2 separate regions of the Homo sapiens genome follow, and region 1 is linked to region 2. Evidence: fine-mapped expression QTL. A gene starts in region 2. The other region holds a variant in brackets. All regions are shown on one strand. Distances are between the middles of the regions. Region 1 overlaps SIGLEC6 (sialic acid binding Ig like lectin 6). Region 2 holds the start of SIGLEC12 (sialic acid binding Ig like lectin 12).

What was found. PIP is the estimated chance that this variant, and not a neighbour inherited with it, causes the effect.
Region 1: its variant is the best candidate, but not a certain one, in a credible set for the expression of SIGLEC12 in kidney cortex (GTEx, PIP 0.60).

What each region holds. Positions count from the first base shown.
Region 1 is chr19:51,523,485-51,528,005 of GRCh38, reverse strand. It overlaps SIGLEC6 (sialic acid binding Ig like lectin 6), which reads left to right. Exons shown (of 8, transcript NM_001245.7): 7 at 178-259. Among named protein-coding and RNA genes, the nearest start is that of SIGLEC6, 5.9 kb to the left of the region's middle. The variant T/G (reference allele first, on the strand shown) is at 2,279.
Region 2 is chr19:51,500,258-51,504,257 of GRCh38, reverse strand. It overlaps SIGLEC12 (sialic acid binding Ig like lectin 12), which reads left to right and starts at 2,458. Exons shown (of 8, transcript NM_053003.4): 1 at 2,458-2,951; 2 at 3,958-4,000. The coding sequence starts at 2,525.

The DNA.
Region 1 (4,521 bases), 23 kb before region 2:
GACCAGCTGAACCAAGCAAGGGGTCTCTTTGAAACCGTGGTCCAACTCTTGGGCTCATGTGAGCACCTGGACCTCTTAATTACTTCTGTACTCTCCATAGGGAGTGGGGAGATGGTTTTCTTTTGGGGAAAGAGGCTCCAAATAACCAGGCTGAAAGGCTTAGGGCTGTTCCCTCAGAGTGAAGACTAGAAGGAAGAAAGCAGCCCAGCCAGTGCAAAACACGGATGATGTGAACCCCGTCATGGTCTCAGGCTCCAGGGTGAGTGACAGAGACCTTAATTTCCATTCAGCATTATCCCTTTTGAATGCTGCCCTAAGTAAGGACCCTGAGGCATTTCTTCATTAACACCTGACATTCCCTGCGGTTCCACATGTGACATTTTAAATTTTTGACTCAGTAATAATTTAAAAAGTATTGATTTCAATAATTTAAAATAGTAACATTTGGAACTGAATCTAATAGTTCTGATGAAATACGTACTCCAGTTAATTTGCTGGGGGTATTTATGCTCCTCATATGTCAGATTATCATATTTCCTGGAATATTAGTCTTTTCTTATGGCATTGATTATTGAGAAAAAGAAATGAACAAAACTTAGTCTGTGTCAGGTGCATTAAGTACAAGGAATGTGGTAGACACAAGCCCTAGAGTAGACAGCCCAAATCAACCCAAAGTCATTACTGCTCATCACTATTACAATATTACAGGCATCTCTAGCTGCCTGTAATATTTTTTCTTTGGCATTGACCTTGGAGAACCTGATGACTGCGTGTCTTGGGAATGGTTGTCTTATATATTATCTTACCAAGGTTCTCTGAATTTCCTGAATCTGCATGCTGACCTCTCTAGAGAGGTTGGGGACATTTTTGTGGACAATATCCTCCAATACGTTGTTCAAGTTGCTTGCTCTCTCTCCTTCTCTTTCAGGGATGCCAATGAGTTGTAGATTTGGTCTCTTTACATAATCCCACAGTTTTTGGAGGTTTTGTTCATTTCTAAAATTCTTTGTTCTTTTGTCTGCCTGAGTTAATTTGAAGAACCAGTCTTTGGGCTCTGATATTCTTTCCTCAGCTTGGTTTATTCTGCTGTTAATACTTCTGATTGTGTTATGAAATTTTTATAGTGAGTTATTCAGCTCTATCAGCTCAGTTTGGTTCTTTCTTAAGGTGGCTATTTCATCTTTCATCTCTTCAATTGTTTTACTGGATTCCTTTGATTCCCTGGAATGGGTTTCTACTTTCTCCTGAATCTCAATAATCTTGATTGTCATCCAGATTCTGAATTTTTCGTCTGTTATTTTATCCATTTCATTCTGGTTAAGAACTTTTGCTGGGGAACTAGTGTGGTCATTATGAGGTAAGAAGACACTCTGGCTTTTAGATTTGCCAGAGTCCTTGCACTGGTTCTTTCTCATTTATGTGGGCTCATGTTCCCTTACTTGTGCTGTCATTTGAGTATAGTCAGTTGGCTTTGTTTCTGGACGTTTTCAGAAGGCCAACGCTTTGTGCACGATCTTTATTTGTTGCTAAATTCTTGTCCTTAGTTTCACAGTGGGGTATATTAGCAAAGTATTTTTGGTGTTGAAGTTTGGATGTGATCCAATAGGTGGTGCTTAAGCATAATGGCTGGCAGGTAGGCTCTTGTTCAGCCACATGAATCCTCTGTAGTTCCTCACATTTGCAGCCATGCTCCCTCCTAGTGCTCTGAGAGTGTGGGCTCCTCTCTCACTCAAGTGCTGGCTACAGATCTTGACTTGGCACTCAGGCTGCACACTACAGCCCCGTGGTGAGCCCAGGCATTTTGTTTCCTCCCCAGCTTGGAGCAGCAGGGGCAGGGACCTTGGAAGTGCCAGTGGTAGAGGGCTTTTTCCTTGTCTCTTGGGGCTTCATCCTAGAGGAATGCAGAGCTGCTGCCAATTGGAATAATTACCCTGGGTTGAGGCAGCTGTGCTGTGGGCCCAAGCAGGGGGACTTACCTGGTGAAGAGTAACGGTTGGAGGCTCACAGGGAAGAGAGACTGGGCTCCTCTCTGTAGTGCAGCTGTGGCATGCTGGAGGTTCCACCAAATAAATCAGGCTCTTTGTTCCTTCCCTAGCCTGAGGGCAGCAAGGGCAGCATGGCTGCAGCAGCAATGGCAGAGGGGCTGCCAGCTGCTCTGAGAGCTCCACCCCAGAAAGCCACAGAGCCACTGCCAATGGGAACGTTCATCTAGGGGTGGGGCCGCTGTGCTGCAGGCCCCAGCCAGGGGCCCTGCCTGGTGAAGAGCAGGGAGTAGGGG[T/G]CCCACAGGGAAGCGAGACTGGGCTCCTTTCTGTATGGTGCTTGTAGTGTGTTGGAGGTGCCAGCAAAGTGATCAAGGTCTTTATTCTTTTCCCAGCCTGAAGACATCAAGGGCAGTACCACTGCAGTGGCAATGGCAAAGAGCCTGTGGGTTGACCCTGGGATATCCTCCTCAGAGAAACACAGAACTGCCACCAACTCAGGTGGGGGCAGGGCAGCTGTGCTGGGGGCCCGGGTCAGGATGTCCTTCTCAGTCAGGAATAACAGGGGCAGGGACCCACACTGATACGGTCTGGCTGCTTTTCCATAAAGCAGTTCCGGTGTGTTGGAGGCCAGTGATAGTCCTTATGCTCTTTTCTCCTTCTCCAGCCTCGGGGGAGTAGGAGTGGGAGCTGTGGCGGCAGAAAAAATGGCAGACTTGTCTGTTACCTCTGGGAGCCCTGTCCCAGAGAAGTCGAGAGCTGCTACTGGCCCAAGTGCTCAGGCAGGGGTGAGGTGGCTATGCTGGGGTCCCAGGCCAGTGGGCTTTCTCTGGCGAGCTGTAGCAGAGGTGAGGTATGCAATCTGTCAGCTCCTCAGCACCATAAATGTGGTCCCTACCCTGAGAGCATGTGAGAGAACCTGGCCTCTCTTGTTGGTGAAGCTATGACACCTGGTGCCCAGCTGCTCATAGGTCCAAGGCCCTTGGGGCTCCACATGGGCCTGAGCAGTGGCCCTGCCCAGACTCCGCACAGCTCTCCATGTCAGTCTGGAGGCTTCAGGGGATCTCTCATGCCCAGGACTGCAAAGGTCCATGGCAGAAGTGTGGGTCCTTGGGGGCTGTCACTTGCTCACTGTTTCCCCATCGTGGGGAGCCTCCCTTGGCTCCATGCCAATCCTGGGGAGCTGCCTTGTCTCATTCTTCTCTGCTCTCCGGGTCATGTTGCTTCCTTGATGAATGTCAACGTGTCCTTCTGGATGGTCTAGTTGGCGAGCTAATGTTTATTTGCCACTCTATCTCCTCTCCATTAGAGTGGCGCACACTCCATAGTCGATTTTTTAAAAACTCTTATCTCAGTAACTGGTAGTATAAGTACATGAAAAATCAGTCTACCATGGTGAATGTTACATGTGCAATTGCAAAGAATGTGTTTTCTGAAGATACTGGATGTAGTATTTTATAAATGTCAATCAGGTCAAGTTATTTTACACTAGTGTTCAATCCTTCTATATCCTTAGTGATTCTCTGTCTGCTTATTTTTACAATTTATTTTGTTAAATCATGCTCTGTGATTGGTTGCATATGCACTTAGGATTTTTATATCTTGTAATGAATTGACTTGTTTATCATTATGAAATGTCTTTATTTCTGGTAATATTTCTTTTCCTAAAATACACTGTCTGATTTAATATTACCACTCTAGTGTTCTTAATATTAGTGCTTGTTTGTTATGCATTTTCCCTCCTCTTACTTTTAACACATGTGTGCCTTCATATGTATTGTGTCTGTCTTACAGATATCACATTTATTCTACCTATTTTATCAAGTCTGCCAATATCTTCCTTTTAATTGGAGTGTTTAGACCATTTATATTTAATGTGATTATTGATTTGGCTCAGTTTAATTCTACCAGATTGCTCTGCTTTATATTTATATTTGTCCTTTTATATTTATCTCCCTTTTTTGCCTTTTTGATAGTTTTAAAATATTACTACTTTTTTTTTTTGAGATGGAGTCTCACTCTGTCACCCAGGCTGGAGTGCAGTGGCACGATCTCAGCTCACGGCAAGCTCCGCTTCCTGGGTTCACGCCATTCTCCTGCCTCAGCCTCCCGAGTGGCTGGGATTACAGGTGCCCGCCACCGCGCCCAGCTAATTTTTTTTTGTACTTTTAGTACAGACGGGCTTTCACCGTGTTAGCCAGGATGGTCTCCATCTCCTGACCTCGTGATCCACCTGCCTCAGCCGCCCAAAGTGCTGGGATTACGGGCGTGAGCCACTGTGCCCAGCGGACCCTTACTTTTAATCTGTAACCCTTCTTGAGTCCTAACGGAAGGTTTGAGGTGTTTACTGGGCCTCTCCTTATCAGACCTGGAACATCAAATTTGGTTTACCCAGTTCCATCAGACTGCTGAGAGGAGAGTTACTACTTTTATCCTCTAGCAGGGTTGTCCAATCATCTGGCTTCCCTAGGGCACATTTCTTTTCCTTGTTGGTTTTCAGCAATAGGATTATGACATGCCTAGGTGTGGTTTTCTTTGTTTT
Region 2 (4,000 bases):
TCTGTACCAATTTTCTGTATTAGTTCATTCTTCCATTGATATAAAGAAATACCTGTGACTGGGTAACTTATAAAGACAAGAGGAATAATCGGCTCGTGGTTCTGCAGGCTGTACAGGAAGCAGGATGTTGACATCTGCTTGGCTTCTGGGGAGTTCCTCAGGAAACTTACAATCATGGCAAAAAACAAAGGGGAAGCCAGCATGTCACATGGCCAGAGTAGCAGGATAGAGCAAATGGGGAGATGCTGCACACAGACAACAAGCAGATCTTGTTAGAACTCACCCACTCTCACAAGAACAGCTCCAAGAAGATGGTGCTAAGCCATTCATGAGAAATCCACCCCCGTGATCCAACCACCTCCCACTACAACCCACCTTCAATATTGAGGCCTATAATTCGGCATGAGATTTGGTGGGGACACAGATCCAAACCATATCAGGCTCTAATCCTATTAGGCTAATCCAAACCACCTATCTAAACACCATGCCTTCTAATACTATCACATGGGGGTTCAAAGGTCAACAAATGAATTTTGAGGAGAGACATGTAGCTGTAGCACTTGTCACTCTGGTCCTTAATATCTTCCTCTCCAAATTATGGAAGTGGGTCTAGAGGGCCCATCAGCTCCTCTGAGTCATATGTGGTTCAAACGTTCTTCCTTTGCAGATTCTCTGTGGCTTCCTCATGTCTCTCCTTCCCATTTTTCTGCTTTTCTTTGCCAACTGGGGACTGTGGGAAAGAGATGGGCCGTGGTCGAGCCCTTCTTCCCATTGAGATGCTGCAACTGTCCTTACGGGAAGAAAGTGACACGGCAAGGATGGGGGCCCAGGAGCAGATTGGTCTGCAGGATGAGATACAAGCTGCAAATGCAGGAATTAGTGGTGTCAGGGAGAGGAGCAGCTATGCATGCCCCAATCCTGCACATTTCCTTTTCAATTATCACAGCCAACTGACTCTACTCCAGGTTATGGGCAATTGGGGACAACATGGGGATGGGAAGATCCATGGAGCTGAGTAAAATAAAACAGATTGTGGTTTTTATGTAAAAATAGTCTTTAGAAAAACCTATGCAAAGCCATAGTATTGAAGGCAGTGCACTCAGATGATAAAACTACATAGAAAAGCAAGGAGACCATTATCATTAAAGTGAGGCTGGGGCATCTTCAGGAGGAACTGCATGTGGCCTATAGGAAGGGGAAACACAGGGCTGAATAAATGAATGCAATTTCTTTCTTCATCTCATGGGAGAAATTTGGCAATTATCTTGTGATGTTCTATTTCTTGAACAGTGATAATTTGGTGAAAATCACTGAGTCATTTTTTTAGGTGGCACTTTTATTTACTTGTATTACATTTCCCCAAAAATCATTGTTTCAAGAAAAGCTGACATGGGTCTAAGGAGGGCGAATCTTGCAGGATTTTCCCCACCTTCCTCCCAGTACATAGCATACAGTTTCAAAAACTCTTCTGCTGAATTCAGGTGCATTTCTTCTCCCATGAAATCCTGTCCATCATTGAGCGTGGACACGCCAGGGCTGGTGTCCTCGCTCCACGTCTCCTGTTCACCTGAAACCCTGGGAGCAGAGCCTGCAGGAACAAAGGGCCAGCAGACCCCTCATGCTCTGGAGTAAGGAGGACTTGTGAGAGAGCAGTGGTGAAGGATCCCATCCTGAACCCAGAGAGCCATGGCCGAGAGAGAAACGCCTGCCCCTTTAGAAATCTGTCCCTTCCCATCCAACATTCCTCCCTTCCAGACCTCACTGTACAACAGTCACAGCCTTAGCTTCTCAGGCCTCCTGTGAACTGGGCTCTTCTCTGTGTCTTTGGTGTGTATCAACACACGGAATCCTCACCTCCACGACCCCGTGTCTCTCTGCTCAGTCCTCCCGAGACTGATTCCCCAACATAGGAGAGAGCGACCACACCCTGCCTGGTACCCCCACTGAAGCTCCTGCCATGGAGAGCTCAGATATCAGGAGCCTCAGTGTCTCCCCACTACACAGTGACTCTTTGGGGACAGTGTCTAGCTCTGCTGTGTTGAACTCCACCTCACGGCCGCTGAGGGAGGAAGGAGAGGTTGCCTGCTCATCCCACCTGCACCCCCATCTCTTATATCCTAGTGTCACCTCTGACCTACAGAGAGACATCCACAGCCTGTACTTCATAGGTCTGGCCACATGGGACTCATTTTCACCTTATGGAAAATATCACCCAAGGGGAAGGGCACTGAGAGGGAGGCAGTGGGCGGGGTGGGCCCTGCATGGGGTTGGAATCTGGGTGAGTCTTTCATCCTCTCTGGCCTCAGGGTCCCCAGGAGTGGACGGGGTAGTGGACGGTGGATCTTCCAGGGGTGACCCGGCCCTGACAGTGTCTGTGTGTGAAGTTCCTCCTGTGAGGTCACCGTTCAGAACCCACCCCCAACTTCCTGTGCGGCTTCCTCGAAATCTTGAGTTCTCAGTTCCTGAGAGAAGAACCCTGAGGAACAGACTTACCTCAGCAACCCTGGCACCTCCAACCCGACACATGCTACTGCTGCTGCTACTGCTGCCACCCCTGCTCTGTGGGAGAGTGGGGGCTAAGGAACAGAAGGATTACCTGCTGACAATGCAGAAGTCCGTGACGGTGCAGGAGGGCCTGTGTGTCTCTGTGCTTTGCTCCTTCTCCTACCCCCAAAATGGCTGGACTGCCTCCGATCCAGTTCATGGCTACTGGTTCCGGGCAGGGGACCATGTAAGCCGGAACATTCCAGTGGCCACAAACAACCCAGCTCGAGCAGTGCAGGAGGAGACTCGGGACCGATTCCACCTCCTTGGGGACCCACAGAACAAGGATTGTACCCTGAGCATCAGAGACACCAGAGAGAGTGATGCAGGGACATACGTCTTTTGTGTAGAGAGAGGAAATATGAAATGGAATTATAAATATGACCAGCTCTCTGTGAATGTGACAGGTAAGGCACGGGCTCCAAGAGAGGCCAAAGGCAAATGTGATGAGGGCTTTAGGGCACGGCTGAGACGGGACACATGTCCTGGGAGGGGGCCGGGGGTGATGGACTCAGGGGAGGAGCTGGACCAGAGCCTGAGCTTCCCCAGGACCGCACCTTGGATGCCCCTCCTGATCCTGCAAGCCCCTCCCCTCACCAGCCCTGACCCACAGGCCTGACATCCTCATCCTGCCTCTGACGCTGGCACTGTGGCATGTGGGGCCTTATGACTCCTTGTTTTGGGGCCTGTCCTAGGCATGGCCGGGGTTTAGCACCATCCCAGGCCTCTCCCCACCAGATGCCAGAAGCACCCACCCCACCCATGCAGCGAGACAATTATCTCCACACATTGTCAAACGTCCTGGGGGGTTAAGTCCTCCCCAGTTGAGAGCCTTAGGTCTACACAACCCCGTGACTCTCTCAGGCCAGGCCAGGGAGGAAGCACTTCCTGGCGCAAACCAAGGGCAGCAGAGGCACCTGAGCCTGGACAGGGAGACTCAGCACACGGCCCCTCCATCTCTCATGCCCCGAGGTCCTCGGAGATCCACATTTAGATGCTCAAAAGACAGGAGGGACCTCCACGATGGTCCAGAGGCCGGGAGGGCAGGACCTACGTGTCTGGTGCAGGCCCTGGTGCTTCAGGGAAGCCCGGAGGTAGGAGGCGGGACACGGTCTCTTCTCCTCCCTGGGTGGGTCTCTAGGGTCTCTGAGCTTTAGGGTTTCCTTCACTCTGTGCAGAGGGAATGAGTTCCTATAGCATGTGGGTTTGCAGTTTCTCTTCCATGCAGGGCTGAGGTCTCCAGCTCCTCTCCAGCCCCCTGTGGGTCCCACAGCCCTGCCCCTCCTCTCCCTCCCCCTTCTCTGCTCACACAGGGAGCCCAGGAAGCCTCTGCCTCAGAGATGCTGCTGCCCCTGCTATGGGCAAATGAAGAGAGGGACAGTGGGGGCTGGGCTGACCCTCGTTTCTCCACAGCGTCCCAGGACCTACTGTCAAGATACAGGCTGGAGGTGCCAGA